4 linked regions of the Homo sapiens genome follow. The protein of the gene in region 2 purifies or fractionates together with the protein of the main gene of each other region. This does not show direct contact. Each region holds a gene or a part of one and is shown on either strand. Other genes may lie near its edges.

Region 1 (3,537 bases), on a different chromosome or scaffold from region 2:
CCTACAGCAACATATGAGAAGAAAAAAGGCTTATCTAGATTCGAAAATTAACAGCAATTATAGTAATATATCCCCTCCTTCTAAATAGTAAAAAGCTCTGATTGTACAAGAATTACCTGTGCTAGTCAAGTTGTTGTTTTTCCTTGAACAACTTTGGAAAAATGGATTTGACAGTACATAATCAGTTCTACTAACCAAAGCTTGTATTTGGAAATTTACTTTTTGTACAAATTGAATTATATAATGCTTAAAATACTTTGTCACTTTATAAGCAAAATGCATAGTACTTAATTTGTTTATACTGTAAAGTATATGTTAAATGCTTTTATCACTTTGAGAATAAAAAGTTACTAATGCTGTTGTATTTTACTTTTTAAAAACTACACAAACATTTGACTTTAAACTTAAAAATGTTTCAAATCCATATTTGATGGATATAATATTTAATATTAAACAATGTTTATGATAGACTCGCCTTTTTGAAGATACAAGGTTAGGCTCATGGAATCTATTCTTGAAATAAGCTCTGATGCCTAAAGAAATAGGAAATTTAAAACCTACCATGAAATATAAATTTTTAAATTTTTATACAGAAAATAATAGGTTCTTTCTGCATTCAGAATGAGAACTTATAAAACAGATTATTTAGACATAGAATCAGTCTTTAAGGGTCCTTGAACCCAACCAGTCTTTTTAGAGATAAATGTCTTTATATAAATTAGAATAGTTTTTCAACTATTGAAATTATTTTCATTGTTTTACTGGCTTTCAACTTATCTTGGTAATTTGGGCTGTTGTAACCATATCAGAAAAAATAGGTATGATTGAAGATTAAGTCAATTTAGTGCATTTTAAGAACTTTAGGCTGAAAGGAAGACGTTCATGTGAAGAAGGTTCAAGCCTCCACTAGGTCCTTTAAAATTTTTTTTTTTTACACTAGGTCCTTTAACACACTATAATTTCTACCCCACACATAGATAGTAATGAGCTTTGCACAGACTCCAACCCCAGTTTGTGGGGCTGGTTTTAATTTTACCAGGCAGGAAAATTCCAGCTGCTTGCTGACACCCAACTTTAAAAAGGGCACAAAGCCTTTTACTCCGAAAGTGAAGTAAGAGCTTATCCTTAGAATAATCAGTCCAATAAAAGGATAAATAATCCTAACTTGTTTTAAGTAGGAGACAAAATTTTGAAAGGAAGGTTTGAAGAGCAGGAAACCACTTGGATAATAAAGGGTAAATATGACGAAGATGCTGGAAACACTTTGGCCAGCCTGTTTGCCTTTGTGAACAGGGAAAAAGCATGTGTGTAGTTTTGGAACATCACTCTTTGTATAGCCTGCCAACTATTTAAAAAATAAAACATCTTACAGGAACTATAATTCCAGGTAATTCATTAAGTGCCACCACAGCAGACCATAAAACTGGATAAGACTTCCTAAGACTTGATTTTTTTCTCCAATTTTTAAGGAGCCACCAATATTGAGGGTTCCAAATAAAGTTAGTAGGTTTCTTCACTGTGTTTTCCTCTACATGCAACAATATATTAGATGACACTTTGTGGGTATACTTACTTAACTAATTTTGTGCCAGATTAATGAGGAGATATATTCACTCTAAAGCCCTAGTCAGACTAAAAATGTATAAATTTTATACATCTACAACATTTTTTTGAGACGGAGTCTCACTCTGTTGCCAGGCTGGAGTGCAGTGGTGCGATCTTGGCTCGTGGGAACCTCCACCTCCTGGATTCAAGTGATTCTCCTGCCTCAGCCTCCCAAGTAGCTGGGACTACAGGCATGCTCCACCACAACCAGCTAATTTTTGTATTTTCAGTAGAGACGGGGTTTCACCATGTTGGCCAGGCTGGTCTCGAACTCCTGACCTCAAGTGATCCGTCCACCTTGGCCTCCCAAAGTATGTGTTAGGATTACAGGCATAAGCCACCGCACCCAGCCTACATCTATAACAATAGCAAAATAGAAACTGCATTTAAGTTGTACTTAAGTTATAATTAAAGTAAATCACATTAAGTCATATTGCTCAAAGGGCAGCAAAACTTAATTGGCAGATTTCTGCGTGGCTATGTTTTGGTTTCTCAACTACTATTTTGAAAGCATGTTCTTGAATCATCTTCACCTGAAAGCTCTACATCTTGTAAGTAGAGCTGACAGGTTTAATTCTTAAGAAATACTTTTGTAAATGTTAATGCTGTCTGTGCTGTAGTTACCTGACTTTATGATGCTTTCTGTCTTCATTTAATTAAGATTCTTAGGAACAATGAAAAATCTTGAATGCTTTTTTTTTGAGACGGAGTCTCGCTCTGTCGCCCAGGCTGGAGTGCAGTGGCGCCATCTCAGCTCACTGCAACCTCTGCCTCCTGGGTTCAAGTGATTCTCCTGCCTTAGCCTCACGTGTAGCTGGGATTACAGGCATGGACCACCACCCCTAGCTTTTTTTTTTTTTTTTTAATTTTAGGAGAAACGGGGTTTCACCACATTGGCCAGGCTGGTCTTGAACTCCCGACCTTCAGTGATCCTTCCACCACCTCAGTTTCGCAAAGTGATAGGATTACAGGCGTAAGCCACTGTGCCTACTCAAAAATCTTGAATGCTTTTTTCACATAACTATTAGAATCTTGTTTAAAAGTTCCAGGTACAGATATCCTCATTTGTTTTCCCTGCATAACCAAGTTCTTTGATTTGCAGTTGACCAAAACTTGGTACAAGAATCTTTGTCTCTTCAAGGCAGTTCTGGAAATCCAAAATCCTGTAGTTTTTCCAGAGCAATTTCCTGAGTTTGGTAGAAGTTCGTGTTGCCTGAGTTTAGCCACTAGATGGTGATAATGCACAGATCCAAGTTTTCTTGTAACATTGTGAAAACAATTAGCAGGTTAAAGAGGCAGTATTAATTTGGAATATTTAGGCATTATTATAAGGAGTCGACAGGCTAAAGGAGGCGTGAAAGAAAGTTCTCCCTCTGTATTTGAGGAAGATATCTGGTGACTGGGTTATTTTCAGACTGTTGTGGGACTACAGTTGAAAAAAAAAAACCCAGCAAAAATGAATTCCTAGACAAAATAAGACCAAAGACACATAAAATACAAGCTCCAATTTTTTTAATTAGACCCAACAGAAACAAAAACACTCCAATAAATTGTTTATAAAAGCTTCCTGTCAGTATCTGTACTTATTTCCTCACAGACCAGTAACATCTGGTTGGCAGGCACTGGTCTGAGGACCACACTTCGGTGCTAAAAGCCTGTACTATAGTGCATCCAATTCAGTCAGCAGAACCGGGGTTCAAGACCTGACTTCATTACTACTAGCTGGATAGCCAGAGAAAGATCACTTAGCCTTTCTAAGGTCCACTTTACTCATTTGGATCAGGTTAATTATATCTATGATTAAGCTTTCTGTGAGAGCTCAATAATAATGTACTAACCTCTCAGGAAGTACTTGAAAGTTGAAACTGAATCACATAATTGGTACATTTACATATTAAACGTGAATTGTTTTATCTGATATCTACTCCATCT
Region 2 (5,769 bases):
AGGAGTGTACTGTGTGTTGCTTTCATCCCATCATAAAGTTGAAAAATCATAAATCGAACCATCATAAGTTGGGCCCGTCTGTATTGAAATCCTAATCCCCAATGTGATGGTATCCACAAAGGAGGCAGAGCCTTTGGGAAGTGATTAGATCATGTGGACAGAGCCCTCATGAATAGGATTACTGCCCTTATAAAAGAGGCCCCAGAGAGCTGCCTTGCCCTTTCCACCACGTGAGGACACAGCAAGAAAGCGCCATCTATGAGAAATGGGCCTTCTACCAGACACTGATTCTGTTGACACCTTGATCTTGAACTTCTCAGGCTCCAGAATTGTGAGAAATAAATTTCTGTTGTTTATAAGCCACACAGTTTGTGGTATTTTGTTTTAGCAGCCTGAACTGATCAAGATACTACTGTCTCTTCCATAGTAAGAGTTAGAGTGAACAGAACTGGTTTTATATATGCAGATGAGAACATAAATGTTACAAGGTGTTATACTAATAGTTTTCCAGGGTACAAGGAAGACTCAGGAGGGGGACTAGTTAAGTCTACTTAGGGAGGTCCGAAGAGTCTTCACTGAATGAACCCAAATTTCTATGAGTACTAAGGGCAATAAAATGGCCCATTTCACACAGTTGTTGTGAGGATCAAATCAAATTAAAAATGAGCTCTTTCTAAAGGAATTTATAGCCCAGTATGAAGCGACCGAACAGAATGAAGTTACATTCCCAACTTCCCTTTCTTTGTGGTCAAGATAAAATAATGTAATTCAAGATTGTAAGATACACATTTTCATTTATCATAACCAGGTAAAGAAGAAATGCAAGCTGGAGGCTAATCTGAACAAGCCAGGGTCACTTCGCCTTCTTCTCTCCTCTCTTAGGAACACAATGATGGTATTGAGGGAGCGAAGGCAACTACTGGAAAACAAAGAATAATTAAGAGCCCAGGATGGAGGCCAGATAGCCGAGGTAGGCTATAGAGGCAAAAAAGAGAAGGGCAATGAGAACTGTGCAGAAAGTGGCTGAAAGCGCTCCCTGCAGATCAAGGTATTCTAGTGCATGTATCTGTGTGTTGAAGCCAGAAAATTCCCAATTTTAAAACACAAGCCATATAATGTGAAGGTTTTCTGATCTATGATCACTTGTTCATTTTGGTTTTTTAAAAATCTAGAAATAAACAGAATATAGACACCATAAGAGAGTTGGAAAGTTATAGAAAATTGGGAAGAGGGACCTTTTAATTAATCAGCATATTTGTACATAAGAACATTCAAGGAATTTGAGTACTTAGAATACTTGGAGCTATATTTTAACAGCTATTGATCATTGAGACAGCTTTTAAAACAATGGTTAGTATGACATTTTTGAGATTGTTCTGGTTAGTTGTAGGAAGAATTATTTCATAAGATAGATGTTAAAAGTGTTCTTTGAATACACATACTATTTTGAATAGTCAATTTGTACAATTTTATGTCTGATGGGTAAATAATTTTTAATGTCCCACCCCTCCTAATGGTGAAGTGGTTAGGACTGTATAAATAAAAGACAATGCTTTTGGAAAAAATTTTCAATAAATCAGATGTAAGCACTACCTAGTAAGTCTACTTTCAAATCAAATCATAATTAATGACAGGTGCCTATTATAATGCCATACAGATATTTTAATGCTCACAAGTTATTTTTCGACGGAGATCAACATTACATTAACTTGAATTTAGTTTCATTATTAAATTATGAAACAAGATACAGATAAATCTTATAAGCAGAGTTCTGATTACTTAACACAGTGAAATTGCAATTCCAAGTTACAGAGACATTCACATAAAGATATTCTTGAGCTACTAAATAATGGCTAAATACTGATGACAATAAGAATTAATACTTTCCACTTATGACATTTGTCAATAACAACTCTGATTAGGTAAAAAATAATTAACATGATGGTCATATTATAATTCTAAATAAATACATTATTATGTTTGCCACAGGAGTATGTGTGTATGCGTGTGTGGGTATATGTGCATGTGTGTGTATTCAGATGGTACTGAACTCAAGTTGGCTTTTAAAAAGGAAGAGATCAGGCATATTACTGTGCACTTATGTTATCAGAGTGATTTATGTAATGCTATGATGTCAAATAAAACCTAGAGTCTAGTCAATTAGAGTAAGCAGAGTACTTGAATCTGTTGAGTCTGTTTGGTCATGGAAAATGAGTTACCTCTAACAAAACTGGCTTGTTCCCTTCTTCCAATACGTAAACAACAGAGTGTGTCTCCATCTGCTTATTTCCCAGTAACTTTTAGATCCATGTTTCTAAACTGAATGCAAGGTAATTCCCAAAGAGCACAAAGGGAGCTCTGAGCTCTGGATCTTTGGCAAACCTTCTACCTCAATGACTGTCTCCTCTCAGCAACCACACTGAAGTGTTCCTATCACAGAGCTTCTCCACAGTCATCCAATTTATCTTCTTAATTGATTACTCCTGGATGAGCTATAGAGAGTCATACTCTCCTATTTCCCATCCTGCCATGTTTCTCACCTTCCTTCCACATTCTTGGGGATGGGATAAAAGGAAAACAGAGAAGGAGAATTTCTGCTGAGTGAAAACAAAATGCAAGTGGGTAACAAAATGAAAAAAAAACACAACTAAGATCAAGACAGGTACTGGCTATAGTTAAAAGGAAAGAACACTTTAGTCTTCAGCCTTATAATTATAAATATTCTAAGAAACTCAAGAGTAAGACACAAGGTGATCTGAAAACATTTTTGGTCATCTAAACAGGACCTGAAGCAATGAAAGAAGATGATGTTCTCAGCTAAGCATCCTATATATATTTTGTTTCTGAAAGAATAAAACTATCTGTGTGTGTTCTTAAGATTACAAATGGAATAAAAGGGTCCAAAGGTTTTATTCACATGGTTCATGTTTTCAAAGAGAATAGAACCATAATTAAACATAATCCAGTATATTTTCACCAGTTAAGCAGACTGTCTTCCAGGAATCTGGTTTGATCAAAGTTTTTTTCTTCATCTGTAAGAAAAAAAAATTCTTTAAAATAAATATACACTCTGCGTTTTAATAGAGGAAAAGGTAAGACAAAGAGAATCTCAGGAAATAAACATTTAGCCTTCTAAGCTATGTTAACTTATGGACTCTGCTACTGAAAATTTAAACAATATGGGCTTTGATTTGCTCAGTTTAAAATCTTTTTTTCTCAGCTTGGGACACATTGGGGAATTCATATTTTACATCTGAACCTCTATAATGACTGAAACTACAGTATGGTATGTCTGGTAAAAATCTCAAAAGTCATGTGTCTTGCTCTCACAGATTGACTTATATCTAAAATACCCACCATTAAAATAATTCACTTGCATCAAAGGACTGTCTCTTTATATTTCCTGTTAAAATGGATCTTGCTCGGGAAAGATGACATGGGAACACATTTGCAAATGTTCTTTTATTAGGGGAGCTAGAGTTCTGGGGAGGAAATGAGACAAAAAGAAGAGGCACTCGTTTGCTGGCTGGGATCGCGAAACTTTAGAGCATGAGGTATCACTTCTGAGGTGGGGATACTTAAAGAGTTAGACAATAGCAGGTTCCTGGGACTCTAAAAATAGGATAGAATGACTAAAAGTTACAATACGGTAGGGAGAAGCAGTGGCCAGGGGCAAAGTGCATCTACTAATTTCTTCTAAGATCACCTCTAGATAAAAGCACATTCTTTCAGTTAGTTGCAATATAATTTGAATGTTTGGGTTACATCTTAACCTGAATTTCTAGCACACTTTAAACCATTGCAGAAAATGGGCTTCTCTTTAAAGGGAAGGAAGAAAACAAAACAAAACAAAACAAAACCAGAACGGCGTCCCTGTATAAATTCCACTGAAACCATAATTCACTAAATAAGAGCCTTCTAAATAATAATGAGGTAGTATAGAATAAAAATACTAAAGAAGACTAGTGATTAATTTATCATATGGGAATCAAAAACTTTTCTATCAATTTAGACTAATAAAATTAGTCATTTCATCTTCAGAGACAATCCACTTAGAAAACTTCAATAATTAAAAAAATACATATTTATTTTCCAAAAAAGACTTGAGATGGGGACCTATAATCACATCCTTTCCTCAAATTGCTAATGAAGATACCTCTCCTCTTTAAAATTAGCTCTCTCTTGTCCATTATAAGTCACTTTCCTTTCTGGCTCTGCACATTTTCCCAACAATCAAATCTAAAACGTCACTATCAACCAATCTCCATCAGAGCTCTTTTCGTACTGACTCCAAAAATCGCTGGGTTCCATGTCTTGGGTTTTAAAAAGAACACCTTGGATACAGCATCCTCTACCCGTTATTCAACTATTTCACACCTTTTCACTGCAAGAGTTCTGAGAGTCATGCCAGCTCTCCAGAGCCTGAGACCTGCTTTCTCTTAACTTTGCAGTTTACTTTCTTGTATCACATTCTGTAAACAAAGTTTCAGATATGGAATAGCAGCAGCAAGCTGTGTCACTGGGCAGGAGGTGGGGGGAAGTCCTGTGACACACTGTTTAATGTCCCCTGAGTTCTGTATTCTTACTAACCATTCTGCTATAGTAACCATTCTGATAGTTTCCATCCCTGGAAAGTTTCAAGAGGAGCGGGATCAGTAGCATCAGCTACTGAATGAATTCTGGGATACTCTCTTATTCTGATTTTCCTCTTACCTTTCTGCTTGCTCCTTTTAATGTCCCTTCACTGGTACTATTTCCCCCCATTTCCCTTGATTTTTGGGTGTTTTATTGTCTTCCCTTTTCCCACTATATCTAAGCCCTAGAAGGTATCTCCATTCTCATGATTTCAACCTTTATTAACGGGCTCTGAAGTTCCTGTTTTCAAACCTGACCAATCATCAGAATAATGTGGAAGAACTTCTTAAGGACAGAGATTCTTGGGCCTCACTCAAGCAGTACAGAATTAGAATTTCTGGGCCTAAGGCCAAGAAATTCTGGGGGAGGGGTGTTGCACTCAACACAGAATCCCGAAAGTAAGCAAAGCTGTTCTGTTATGCAGGTGAAAGAGGCCACTATGCTAGTACCTTCTGGTGATTTCTGAAGGGACGCCAGTAAGATGGTTGCTGCCTCCGGAATAGTTAGTAGTTGGGGATTTGGGCTTCGTCTTTCTGCAGAAACAAAAATGTATACAGATTCTCTTAGCATTTATATATTGATGTAGATAAGTCCTATTCTAACATGCAGCAATACTAGAAAAACCTCTATGAAATAGATTTTGACCCCTCAACAAAGGACTACTTACACAGAAGACTAATTTTTTAACATGTCACAATTGCCTTGGAAATGACTTACAATTGGTTATGTCAAGTTTACAAACAGGGTATGGAAGAGAATGTTAAACTATATGCCAAAGAGAATTTTAGATAATAATTTAACCTTTGCGGCCAAATATAAGGTAATTATTTGACTGAAGGAGTATCTGCTAAGAACTCAAAGTTATTTCAAATCTAAGTTGAAAAAAGACAAATTGTTCTGATTCAGCACAAAACATGATTTCTAATTTGGGGCAACTGAAGTTGAGAAACAAATCTTAACCTCATAAAATAAATAAGCTCAATTACACAGCATGTTTGAAGAGCCTAAACAAAAATTTAAGCACCTACTATGTGTTCAACAGTGTTTGGTATTTTTCCAAGTAAGTATACTTTTTAATTTTAGCATTTCAATCTTTACAATTTCATCAAATTGTATTGTTATTTGTTAATACAA
Region 3 (3,500 bases), on a different chromosome or scaffold from region 2:
TGACTGTGACCTTGAACTCTTGGCCTCAAGCAACCTCCCACCTCAGTCTCCCAAAGCTCTGGGATTACAGGAGTGAGCCACTTCGCCCAGGAACAATAATATTTCTTTCTCTATTTTCTTTTTCAGGAACTGGCAGGAAAAAAAATTTTTAATTAAAGTATAAACAAAAGCAAAAAAAAACTGAACTTTAAAAAATACATTTCCCTTTAAAATGAACAATATCCTGCCCTGAATTTCAATGTCTTATTTCCTGTAGATAAATCGGAAAAGAGCTCACAAGGGGGAAAGAAAGCAGAATGGGCCATGCTAGAGAGGCAGACAGACAGGCATCTCCTCATCCCTCCCATTACGGATGTGTGACATCATCTATTATAAAGCTACATTCTTCATGGAGAAAGGAAAAGTACTGATACTAAGTCCTATCAACTCTGGCTTTTGAGAAACAGCAGACTTCACAAGAGAACTAGGACTCTCCAGACAGGAATGTTTCAATGATCACTGAAAACGCCAACAACAGAGGAGTGGGCAGGCAGTGGTGAGGCAGCACAGAAGTAATGTGCAGACAGGGTGTTAAACACAAGAAACTTACACAGCTACAACCCAACGATGTGTGTCTCTAAAAGCGTGTATTTATTAAGCAGTACCTTCTGACATGTCCCCTGCTTTTGGGATCACCACTACCCCGCTGAATTCCAAAGAACCAAGAACTCTTTCCAATGGCTGACAGAAAACAAAGCTGGGAGGCTCTGCTCCATCATCCAGGACTGTTAATGCTCACACTTCTTTACTCAGAACATTCCAAACACTTCTGTACTAACTCACACTCTCAATGATCCGTGTATGAACTACACGAACACATAGGTCCTGGGACTTCTGCGGCTGCTGGTCAGAAGAAGGCAGCGACTGTACACAGGTGTGACCTTGATTCATATTAGGTGAGAGATTTTTAAAATTGTTTAAAGTTGTTTTTAAAGATAACTGTGTCCATTTATAGTCTCTGGCACACAGAGTTAAATGAATCACTAAGGGACACTTGGAAGGAATGGGGGGAACTTCTGATTACTCTTCTCCATAACCAGACGATTCTAACTGGTCACAGGAACCCAACTATTACAATGAATAAATCTTGTTAGAAGAATCTAGAATTCTTACAGTGAGAGATTTTAGAAAACATCTACTCCAATTTTGTTATTCAGAGAATTTAGCAAATTCGTCCAGGTCACAATTAGTTCACGGCAGAGCTAGGACCAGAAGCTGAAGCACCCCTGTCACCCTATGAGGCCAGCATACCTCTCTTGCTCTGCCTGTAAGGATCAGCGCCTCTCCCTCCCATTATAACCCTGCTCCAGGGCTTCAGATGGGGAGACTCATCCGCTTGCCCTCTTCCTCACAGCAGCAAAGTTCCACAGTCAACAACGTCTCTTACTTTGTTTGAGGAGTAATGACTATGCATGTTAGGTACCATTTTTGCTCACTTTCACTTGCTTCCTGACAATACAAGTACCCATTGCTTGTATACTCACAAGCAGCTCGAACGAACATGTCACTGCTTCCAGTTTTATCTCCAAACCAAGAGTAAAGCCTGACTCATTTCTCTCACTCAATAAACATACCTGGGATGCACATACCTGGCTAGTCACAGATATGCCCCAGCTATTTATGCAACAAATTTAAACAAATCTTACTTTCGTTCATGAGGCGTCTCTGTGCTCACTGAGTGATACCTCATAAGTTTCCTTTGCGAAACCCCCGGGGACCCCCGGGCAGGTTGTGGAGGTTCCTGGCATTCGATGGGGAAGTGACTCAGGGTGTTTGCTCGCCTCCTGAAGGCCTGCTGGGGCGACAGCGGAGCTGGCTCTTCTGGGAGATGACTCTCCGAGTCACTGGACAGGTCCTCCGAGGAGCCGAGGAGCTTAAAGGAGCTCTCAGAGATGGGCAAGGCCTCCTTTTCACACACAGATGGCTCCTGGGAGCAAACACACAGCAGATCAGACACACCATGGGGAATATGTGGGATTTATAAATCTCTAGTTCCTGCACGGGCAAACATTGCAGTATCTAAGTATGTGTTCTGATTATAATGCCATCTAGAAGCCACCACCAAAAGCAGAAGAAAATGAAGGTCCATTAAATAAATGCCCGCTCCTCAAGGACACACTGCTGGCTTGCTGGAGAAATGGGGAGACTGGCCAAGTGCAGGAGTGAAGGACATAAGCCACAATCTGTAACGTTCTGAACAACGCCATGAATAGTGCCCTCTCTCTAGAAAACAGGACTGTTTACTGCAGCTTCTAAGGGGTGTGAGTGCTGGAGAACTTGTCTCCACTGCTTAACCAAGTTCTTTATCTTTGCCACATGTGTTCACTCATGTTAAACCCACATTTTAAGGCTCTCTCCGAATCTGATCTACTGTTGAGATTCGACTTCATAATTTGAGATTAAGAACTGTATCAATATTCTTAGAATATGGAAAATCACTCTGTAGGCACTTACTGCTGCAATTCAGGGCAAATAATTTCTTTCTGCACCTCAATTTCTTCTGTAAGAGGGTAAAGTAAAAATGTATCTGAGTTTCAAGAACAAAGCAAGATGATACAACCAAAAGTACTTTTTATGTTGTAAAATGTTACACAAACATAAGTTATTGTTTTATTAGGTATGCAATAAATCTATGGAGTGAGTGCTCAAACATTTGTTGAGAATCATGACAATATTTTAAAGTTGTATGCCTTCACGATGCACGCTTTTTCAAAGGAATGAACTACTACCACTCAAGCAAACTGATGTTTAACACTGCACCCAGGACGTGGCTAGTGGCCAATATATTTTTAATATATTCAAAATATTCAAAAAGAGGAATTGTAGCAGCTTGCTCCTATTGAAATTGTTGGAAGAGAAAAAATAAATCAACAGGAATAGAGTAAACAAGAATGAATGCATCTAACAGTGGACTGGAGACTGAATTCTACCTGTTCATTTACACAGTTGAGTGCCTTTTAGGTAACAAGTATTGAGGGTTTTAATTTGAAAAAAAAAAAAAAAGAAATGTGTTTACCAAAGGGAGAAGTTACATACATTTAATTGTATAAGAATTAGGAAAAAATTCCCAACATACTATGAAATATTGATTACTTTCATAACTGAAGTTTTTCATTCTTCAGGACTCAACAGTTGTGAAGATTCTTTTAAGGATTTAAAAGTCTCTCTAAGACAATACATCACAGAACACAATCTCCATCATGCAAACCTGTTGATCTAAATTCTTACTAATATCCCTCCAAATCATATCAAAGAGCTAACCCTTAGCTTAATTGGACAACTGAAAGGGCCATTTTCATTTGTCAAGTTTCAGGGCTATTTGGTTTCTTTGCAACTCCTAGGTGATCAATTTTTTAGAAGGGATCCAATTACATAAAATAGAATATAGTAGTTTCTCAATTCAAGATGAATAAAAGAAAGATGTAAAGTACACTTAAACATATACAATACATACAAGCAGC
Region 4 (3,477 bases), on a different chromosome or scaffold from region 2:
CCCCACCCACCACACACCCCGTCCCCACCATACAAACCCCGTCCTCCCCCACACACCCCATCCCCCCACACACACCCCGTCCCCACCGCACACACCCCGTCCCCACCGCACACACCCCGTCCCCACCGCACACACCCCGTCCCCACCGCACACACCCCGTCCCCAGCACACACACCCCGTCCCCACCGCACACACCCCGTCCCCAGCGCACACACCTCATCTCCCCACCACACACACCCCGTCCCCACCGCACACCTCGTCCCCACCACACACACCCCATCTCCCCACCACACACACCCCGTCCCCACCGCACACCCCATCCCCACCGCACACACCCCGTCCCCACCACACACACCCCGTCCCCACCACACACCTCGTCCCCACCACACACTTCCCGTCCCCCCACCACACACCCCGTCCCCACCATACACACCCCGTCCCCACCACACACACCCTGTCCCGCTTTCCTGCTTCATTTTTCACCATAGAGCCCGTAGCAATAAAATATACTGTGTACTTTATTTTCATTGGCTATAAGCATTCAATACATGGTTGAATGAATGAAGAAATGAATGAATCAATGAAAGATGGACCAGAGCTCAGCCATCTCCCAGTTTTTCTTCAGCAGGACCCCCTGCTATTATTGTCCCTGAGAACTTCTCACTGAGAGAGTCTGACATAAAACAAAATGTATTAATCCTTCATTTCTCCCACAAATGCCGATGCGCACAAACTAAGCTAGCACCATCGCCAGGGAAATCAAAGACGGGGACACTGGAGATGGTCAGATGCCCACAGCCCAGACAGTCACAGTCCTAGCTTGGGCTCCCTGCCCCAGGGTTGGCACGTGGAGCACTGCCCTGGGTCTCCATGGCCCATAGCCAGACAGACCCTTTTTCTTACTTTTCTCAAACCAAGGTGTTCACCCAAGACGTTCAAAATTTAAACACTGAATCTCTAAATGGAAACTAAGAAGACTGACAGCACCAAGCGCTGGCGAGGACGCAGTATGACAAGAACCTGGCACACTTCTGGTGGGAATGTAAATGCTGCACTCACTCCGGGAAAATGTCTGGCAGTTCCTAGCAACACTGAGTTTTCCTGCCCTGTGGCCCAGAGCTCCACCCCAGGGGCTTACCAGAAAGACAGGAAAATGTATGTACACACAACCTGTGCAAGTGTGGAGATGCAGAGACCCCTGAATAAGAACAGGCAAACATTCCTTATTCCCAGCTTGCTAAAGTAAGGGAATCAGTCGCCATCACTCATATTGGGTGGAGATGCCCAGGCTGGCCAGAGGAGTGGGAGAGCTTCCAGGTGAGACAGGGACGGCTCCAGGTGAGCCCTGATGGAGTCTGTGGCCTGGGGAACTAGAGGCAGCTCACAGGAGTGGGCCTCCCATGAGATTGGTGAAGGAAGTGTCTGCCTCCATTTGTGCTGCTACAAGAGAATACCTGAGGCTGACTCATTTACAAGGAACAGAGGTTTATTGGCTCACGGTTCTGGAGACCGGACAGTCCAAGATCCAGGAACTGGCCGACTTGGGAATTCCACCTCCAAGATGGTGCTTTGAACACTGGAGGGCAAGAGAGGCACAAGCGGGCTGGACTTACCCTTTCATAACATTAACTCCGCCCTTGGAGAGTGGAGCCCTCACAGCCTAATCACCTCTTACAGGCCCCATCTCTTAACACTGTTAGAATGGCAATTCAATTTCAACATGAAGTTAGCACAGTGCCTCATGCCCCAATCCCAGCTACTTGGGGACAAGAGTTGAAGACCAGCATTTAAAAACAAAAAATTTTAAAAATTAGCATGCACCTGTGGTCCCAGCTACTCAGGAGGCTGAGGTGGGAAGATCACCTGAGCCCAGAAATTCAAGACCAGCCTGGGCAATGCAGTGAGAACCCCATCTCTACAAAAAGTAAAAAAAAAAAAAAAAAATTAGCTGAGTGTGATGACTCACACCTGTAGTTCCTGCTACTCAGGAGGCTGAGGCAGGAGAATCATCTGAGCCCAGAAGGTTGAGGCTGTAGTGAGCTGTGTTTATGCCACTCCACTCCAGCCTGGGCAAGAGTGAGACTCTGTCTCAAAAAAAAAAAAAACACTCCCAACTACGATTTTGAGTTTGTTCATTTCTCCTTGAAGGACTGGCTTTTAAATTCCATGGTCTTCCCTCTATAGTTTGGAAGATATATTTCCATTCTTTTAGAGATTATCTGAAAACTCTGATAAGCCTTGTAACAGATGCTGAAGTCAGTGTCCGTGCCCTCCTTCCGACCAGTAGGGGGACTTTAGAACACTGTAGGTTTGGGCACCTCTCTCCCAACTCAACATGTGGCATCTTTTTTATAAACTCCAAAAGTAGGCATTCTAAGTAGAAGCTTCTAGATGTGGTGTTTTAGACATGCCCACAAATCCACCTTCCTGCCTATTCACTCCTTCTTCCATCTCCAGCTTCCCCACAGGATCCCTCGCCAGAAGCCCAGACATGCCTTAGACGCTCTAGGCTCTGCTGGCAGCAAACTCCGGAGTGAGGGCAGTTTCGTGGTATGAAAATGCGTTTAGCCCTCTTTTTTTTTTTTTTTTTTTTTTTTTTTTTGAGACAGAGTCTCATTCTATTGCCCAGGCTGGAGTGCAATGGCACAATCTTGGCTCACTGCAACCTCTGCCTCCTGGGTTCAAGTGATTCTCCTGCCTCAGCCTCCCGAGTAGCTGGGATTACAGGAATATGCCACCACACCCAGCTAATTTTTATATTTTTAGTAGAGACAGGGTTTCACCATGTTGATCAGGCTGGTCTTGAACTCCTGACCTCAGGTGATCCACCTGCCTTGGCCTCCCAAAGTGCTGGGAATACAGACGTGAGCCACTGCGCCTGGCCCCTCATTCTTGAAAGACGGATTTTCTGGGTACACAATTCTAGGCTATCACTATTTTCTCCCAGGACTTTGAAGATATTATTTACTATCTTTCTGGCTTCCACTGTTGCTTTTAATCAACTACTTATTTTCTTCTTTCCAGATAATCTCTTTCTTTTCTGCCTTAAGATCTCTTTGTCATGAGATTCTGTACTTTCACCAAGACGTGACTGTTTGGGTAGAGCTTTTTAACTATGCTGCTTGGGAGCTGCTGGTTCCTGAACCTAAGGAGCAGGGGCTCCTGTTGGTTTGGGAAAGTTCTCAGCCGTATTTCTCTGAATACTTGCCTCCACCCCATATTCTCTTTCCCCTCCTTCTGGAATTACTCGTAAATTGCGGATGTCATACTAAACTCTCCATCTTCTTGTCTCATCCCATCTCATATTTTCCAGCTCTGTCTTTCTGTGCTGCACTTTGGGTCATTTCTTCAAACAGTTCCCGATTCTTCAGGAAACACATCATGGAATATTTTTTAGAGTATTTTATTTTTATTTCAACAAGTTCTCTTTTTAAAATCTGCTTGGTCATTTTTATAGTCTCTTGCTTCCTGTGCATA

The links. The genes of interacting proteins can lie anywhere in the genome.
Region 1: the proteins of SPX (region 2) and CLN5 purify together in Homo sapiens (affinity purification with mass spectrometry; one large-scale study listed by BioGRID and IntAct). This does not show direct contact.
Region 3: the proteins of SPX (region 2) and TBC1D1 purify together in Homo sapiens (affinity purification with mass spectrometry; one large-scale study listed by BioGRID and IntAct). This does not show direct contact.
Region 4: the proteins of SPX (region 2) and IBA57 purify together in Homo sapiens (affinity purification with mass spectrometry; one large-scale study listed by BioGRID and IntAct). This does not show direct contact.

Annotation. Positions count from the first base shown.
Region 1 is NC_000013.11:77,002,081-77,005,617, reverse strand, and holds the end of CLN5 (bis(monoacylglycero)phosphate synthase CLN5), read right to left. Parts: 3' UTR 501-3,537; downstream 1-500. UniProt on the Homo sapiens protein: Exhibits palmitoyl protein thioesterase (S-depalmitoylation) activity in vitro and most likely plays a role in protein S-depalmitoylation.
Region 2 is NC_000012.12:21,528,400-21,534,168, reverse strand, and holds the end of SPX (spexin precursor), read right to left. Parts: intron 5,169-5,769; coding exon 5,085-5,168; intron 3,033-5,084; coding exon 2,974-3,032; 3' UTR 1,222-2,973; downstream 1-1,221. UniProt on the Homo sapiens protein: Plays a role as a central modulator of cardiovascular and renal function and nociception. Also plays a role in energy metabolism and storage. Inhibits adrenocortical cell proliferation with minor stimulation on corticosteroid release.
Region 3 is NC_000004.12:38,048,084-38,051,583, reverse strand, and holds part of TBC1D1 (TBC1 domain family member 1), read right to left. Parts: intron 1,967-3,500; coding exon 1,686-1,966; intron 1-1,685. UniProt on the Homo sapiens protein: May act as a GTPase-activating protein for Rab family protein(s). May play a role in the cell cycle and differentiation of various tissues.
Region 4 is NC_000001.11:228,179,281-228,182,757, reverse strand, and holds the end of IBA57 (iron-sulfur cluster assembly factor IBA57, mitochondrial isoform 1 precursor), read right to left. Parts: 3' UTR 501-3,477; downstream 1-500. UniProt on the Homo sapiens protein: Mitochondrial protein involved in the maturation of mitochondrial [4Fe-4S]-proteins in the late stage of the iron-sulfur cluster assembly pathway. Operates in cooperation with ISCA2 in the maturation of [4Fe-4S] proteins.